Linked DNA regions of Homo sapiens: region 1 is linked to region 2. The links come from fine-mapping of genetic effects on gene expression. A gene starts in region 2. The other region holds a variant in brackets. All regions are shown on one strand. Distances are between the middles of the regions. Region 1 has its middle 13 kb from the start of LINC00543. Region 2 holds the start of CDX2 (caudal type homeobox 2).

What was found. PIP is the estimated chance that this variant, and not a neighbour inherited with it, causes the effect. A credible set is the group of variants that fine-mapping cannot tell apart.
Region 1: its variant is the best candidate, but not a certain one, in a credible set for the expression of CDX2 in pancreas (GTEx, PIP 0.52).

What each region holds. Positions count from the first base shown.
Region 1 is chr13:27,939,119-27,942,024 of GRCh38, forward strand. No RefSeq gene overlaps it. Among named protein-coding and RNA genes, the nearest start is that of LINC00543, 13 kb to the right of the region's middle. The variant A/C (reference allele first, on the strand shown) is at 1,732.
Region 2 is chr13:27,967,808-27,970,713 of GRCh38, forward strand. It overlaps CDX2 (caudal type homeobox 2), which reads right to left and starts at 1,508. Exons shown (of 3, transcript NM_001265.6): 1 at 659-1,508. The coding sequence starts at 1,199. RefSeq lists an enhancer at 743-1,434.

The sequences.
Region 1 (2,906 bases), 29 kb before region 2:
ATATTTTGACTTTGTAACTTTGTTAGAAAGTTTTGAAAACACTGCTTTAAAAACACTGCTTGGAATGGTGTGATCTTCATTTTATCTGTGTTAAACATTTGGTTTTTTGTTTTGTTTTTAGCGCTCTATTCATCATGTGCTTTTATTAGAAACCAACTCACATCTATTTTGGAGAGAGAAAGTTGAGCTAGGAGAGAGAGAGACTGAGGGCCAGGGTAAAACTCATGTTAAATGCTTTTCAAACAAGATATAATTGTTAAACTTTTATTTATTTATTTATTTATTTTTTTTTTTGAGACAGAATCTCACTGTCGCCTAGGCCGGAGTGCAGTGGTGCAATCTCAGCTCACTGCAGCCTCTGCCTCCCGGGTTCAAGCGATTCTCCTGCCTCAGCCTCCCGAATAGTTGGGACTACAGGCACACGCCACTGCGCCAGGCTAATTTTCTGTATTTTCAGTAGAGATGGGGTTTCACCGTGTTAGCCAGGATGGTCTCAATCTTCTGACCTCGTGATCTGCCCGCCTCGGCCTCCCAAAGTGCTGGATTACAGGCATGAGCCACCGCGCCCAACCTAATTGTTAAACTCTTAATCTCAGCCTCAGAGTCAGTCTTCCACTCTTTGTGATGCTGGAAGTGGGCTGAGGCGCTGAAAATGACATTCTCCTTTGGCAACGGGCTATTGGTCAGGCTCTGCTACTCAGCACGGGCCAGGAGGGAGGCTTCAAGGTGCAAGGCCAGTGGAAGAACTTGCTTCTTCCTTTCTGCTTCCAGTTCGCTTCAGTTGCGAGCCAGGCCGTGTTTCTCCCGGTAGTGGCAATTTATTCCATTAGCAGCAGTTTATTCTGGTTTGCAGTTTCTTCCGAATCGGCACCACCTCAAAGATATCAACACCAGTTGGCCAGCAACCCCTTCTCAGCGGTGTGAGTCCCAGCTCTGTGGAGCCCCTCCTTCAAGCTTCTACATTTTCATATTTACAACCTCTTTATTTTGTTGCCTCAGCCCTGGGGGCTGGTAGCTGCATTTTGCAATCACTCCCTGATGCCTTAGTACAAGCTTGTCCAATCCCTGGCCGTGGCCACATGTGGCCCAGGACAGCTTTGGATGTGGCCCAATACAAATTCGTAACTTTCTTATAACATTATGAGATTTTTTTGCAATTTTCTTTTTTAATTCATCAGCTTCATTAGTGTTAGTGTGTTTTATGTGTGGCCCAGGACAATTATTCTTCTTCCAATGGGGCCCAGGGAAGTCAAAAGATTGGACACCCCTGCCTTAGTGCCTCTGACTGGAAGGGCCTACCAGCTTATACTTCCTATGTTTGCCTGCCTGCCTTTTTTTTCTTCTGTCTTGCCTTCTCTTAAAATGTACTGAGTGGAGAGCCGCAGTGGCTCAGGCCTGTTGTCCTGGTGCATAAGGAGGCGAGGCTAGGCGTTCCAGGCCAGCCTGGGCAACATAGAAACCTCTCATCTATGTAACAAAAAAATAATAATAATAAAATGTACTGAGTAACTGTACTAGGATCTGGACTGGGCTCTGGGTCCTCTGTAAAGTCTGTGAGCACACAACCATGGAACCAATGAGTTTCATGTTCTCTGTGAAACTTCCCAAACATCCCAAGTACCCCTCTGTGGTGTCTACCTTCTAAGATGGCCCCCAATAAATTGTGCCTTTTGGTTTCCACACCTTTATGTCCTCCCCTCCCACAATGAATCTGGGCTGAGCCTGTGACTC[A/C]CTTTAACCAGTAAACTGCAGCAAAACTGATGCTGTGCCCCTTCCGGGCCTAACATCTTTTTTTTCTTTTTTTGACACAAGGTCTCATTCTGTTGCCCAGGCTAGAGTGCAGCGGTGCAATCACAGTTCGCTGAAGCCTTGACCTCCCTGGCTCAAGTGATCCTCCTATGTCAGCCTCCCAAGTAGCTGGGAACACAGGCACACACCAACATGCCCAGCTAATTTTTTTTTTTCTTTTTTTGTTGAGACAGGTTCTCACTATGTTGCCTAGACTGGTCTCAAACTCCTGAGCTCAAGCAATCCACCTGCCTTGGCCTTTCAAAGTGCTGGCATTACAGGCATGAGTCACTATGCCCAGCCTGAGCCTAAAATCAAAGAAGGCCTCATATCTTCCACATTTGTGCTTTGGGAATCCTGGACCACCACGTTAAAATAATAAAAAAACCCAGCTGCCTCGCTGGAGAGACTATATCACGATGTCCTCACAGGAAGATACTGCATGGAGAAAAGAAACCCTGAGAACACCTGAGAAGAGAGGCCCAGGCATCCCAGCATCTCATCCCAGCATCTCATCCCAGCTCTAGCCATCATCTGACTGCAATTATATGAAGCCAGCAAAGGAACTGCCCAGCTGAACCCAGTTAATCTACAAAATGTGAGAGATAATTAACCCCTAAGTTTTGGAGGTGGTTTGCTATGCAGTAACAGATAATTGAAATGCCCCTTCCCTGTTCTATGTTCTTACTCTTTAATCCCATAACACCTTGTCCCTTTGTACCTCTATCATATTCTTACTCAAGTTGCATTGTCTGTCTCCCCTAAGAGATGGCAAGTTTCTAAAGGGTGGTGATTGCATCTTTATTTATTTTATCAGAAAAAGTTCAGTAAAGAAAACAGAAACCACTCAAGGCATTTCAAGCAAAAGGAGATTAGGTATTCACAAGATTATTGAAAGGCACAGCACGAGGCTTTTGGCTTCAAGGTCATATCACCATGGTTGTAATGCATAGGTCTAAAAACTGCTGCTACTACCACAGCTCTGCCCTATATCCAAGAAAATGATGTCCGGACAGTGGAATGTGGATTTGGCCATGCAAATACATCTGCCAGAACCAGCCAGCCACTATGACAAGAACAATGACTTCTGTCTTCTTTCTGTCCTCCAGATATTTCAT
Region 2 (2,906 bases):
CCCCTTCACAGGTCAGAGGTTCAGAGACGGGGCGCGCCCCCGTCGCCTTAGCAGCTGGGGCTAGCACCTTCTTCCCAGCGACAGCAGCTCTCCCTGGTCTGCCTGCTCGCTGTACCTTGAATTGGCCCGAGTGGCCAAACCCGGTCCCACACACAGCCTAGCCATCCTCCGACCCCCCCAGGTCACTTCTCTTCTTAGATGGCTCAGATGGGGAAAGAGAGAGCGGAGATAAATGGCCTAGACCTAGCCCAAGAAGGTTCGAGCCTCCCTCTCTCCTCGGCGGCCAGGAGCCACGCAAGGAATGCATGCCGCAGCAAGTGCCGGAGGACGCGATTCTGCCGGCGTCCAGCAGTGCTCACGCCGACATTCCCCGGAGCTTCCCGAAGGTGTCCCGGGGTTGCGAATGAGGAGCTCTTGGAAAGAGGACGCCTGAACACGGTGTTGAGACTCAGAATATTCACTCCCAGGCTCAGTAGGTCAGAGAAGCCCCGACGGGCCAGAGGCCCCCGAATTTGTCTCCGGGCCGTGCCCCTCCTGGCGCCGAGCTCCCAGACAGCCCGGGACGCCCCTGTGCGCACTGGACGCGCGACGCGCAGCAGCCACTGGCTCGACCCGCGCCTTCCCAAGCACCCTCCGAAGGGGCGCAGCCTCTGCTTACCTTGGCTGCCGAGGGACTGCTGCGCCGGCTTCCGCATCCACTCGCACAGGTTCCGCCGCTGGCCGCCGGGAGACAGCTGCTCGGCGGCAGCGGTGGCGGCGGGCCCAGGAGGGCCGGGGTTGAGCGTTTGCAGCAGCCCAGAAGCGCAGGAAGGCGCGGCGGCCGGGTGGTGCGGGTGGTGATGCGGGTGGTGGTGCGGATGGTAGTCTGCGGGGCTGCTGTAGCCCATGGCTGCGGCCGGGGAGCCACCGTTGAGGCCGTGAGCCACGGCGTTGGCGGCGGCCGCGGCGCCTCCGGGCGCGTAGCCATTCCAGTCCTCCCGGAGTGGGGCGCCATACGCTGCCGGCCAGGATGGCCCCGGGGACTGCGCGCTGTCCAAGTTCGCTGCCGCTGCAGCTGCGGCCGCCACGTGGTAACCGCCGTAGTCCGGGTACTGCGGGGGGCTGACGAAGTTCTGCGGCGCCAGGTTGAGGCCGCCAGAGTGGCGCACGGAGCTAGGGTACATGCTCACGTCCTTGTCCAGGAGGTAGCTCACGTACATGGTGGCGAGGGTCCGGGAGCAGACCTCACCATGCTGCCTGGGGACCGACGCTGGAGGCTGCCGGGGGGCACGAAGGGAAAGGGGCGAGGGGACTCGAGGAGCGGCGGGTGGCTGCGCCCCAGCCCGCGGTGCTCCGCTGGCTCCTCGCGGCTCTTCTGCCTCCGAGGCGGTCCCTCCCTCTGGCCTGCCTCCTCCCTCCCTCCCTTTCTTCCTTCTTTCCTCCCACCTCCTTCCCACTAGGCTGCAGAGGCGGGGAAGACCCGCCACAGGCTGGCGTGCGGAGCCCCAGGCCGGCGGCCTTCCGTGATTAACGAGTGTTTACAAGACTCTATTAGTAATGACACAGACACCAATGGTTGGAGACGTCGAGGCGCAGCGCGCACTCTACGCACAACCCCTCGAAACATAATTTGCATTTTAAAAGATAAAGGGGAGGGAGGCTCGTGAGAGGGCAGCGACCTGACACAGCTAAATATTCAAACCTTTATTGTTAAGAGCTTCCTCCTTCCAACCTGGTGCACTTTAACCTCCAATCACAGGTTCAAAGAATGAAATCAAGAGACTTACAAAAGAGAGGGGAAGAGAAAAGGCTATCTTGGTAGGAATCTGAGCTTGGAGACAGGAGCAGTGGTTGTTTATGCATTTGCAGGGAAGAGGGCGGTCAAGAAACTCCTTCTGTCCCAAAGAGAAAAGAAAAGAGAACCATTGCTTTGATGAGAACGTTTCTGACCAACCTGGTAGGTGACAAGCAGAGAGCCCTAAGAGATGGGCCATTCCTTCCCGCCCTGTGCTCCTGGCCCGGACGACTGCAGCCCCAAACAACTGTCACCTCCAGTTATTTTCTTGCCCAAGGAAATTACTCGCCCTCCGCACAAGACAAATTATGATCCTAGATTCAGGCTGCATCTCTGACTTCATCTTACATTTGAAATTTGAGTTAAATTCAAGCGATTTATTGTTAAACGTTTACATTCAAGAATCAGAAGTTTTAAACTACAGAAGTAATGGGCATGTGGTAGAAGTTAGGCTAGTGGTTATTGGCGTGCATAACTGGAGGCGAGCTAGGGGATCGTTGGTAAAGCAGTTTCTTAGGCTGCTGGTTACACAGAATGTCAGTTTGTGAAAATTCATTGAGCTACACTTGTATGTTTATTATACTTAAATATAAGGAAAAGAGAATTTCTGCTAATGCTTACCTAGGTATTTATGTGTCTTACATCATACCTGTATCTTTAAAACTCTCTGTCCTTTACAAAGGGAAACGTTCTCCGAAGAAATTTATTTCTCATTTCCAGGAGATGATAAGGCAACTCAGGGCCATTATTAACGACTGCTAATGAAAAGCTCTGAGTTGAGAAAGGATCTCTCTTGGTTTGGGAAGCGCTGCGGCCAAGGGGCCTAGGGCTGGAAGTGGCCGTCTTGGGGACCGAAGCCGCGCAGCCCGGGATCGGGAGCTGCCCCGACAGGAGCGCGGAGGCGGCGAGATTCGGCCCCCGCGCGCGCCCAGCTCGGTTTCAGCAACCGCGTGGAGTGGGCCTGCGGCCGCCGTTCACCTCCTAATACAAGCCTTTGACAGCGCTGCCAGATTCGGGAATGAGGATCACTGCGGCGAGGCCCGGCGGGCTGGGCAGCCTGACTCGGCGGCTTTGAGCGCTCTCAGAACCCGCGGGCGCTCGCGGCACTCCTGGAGACCTGCACTTGTCTGTT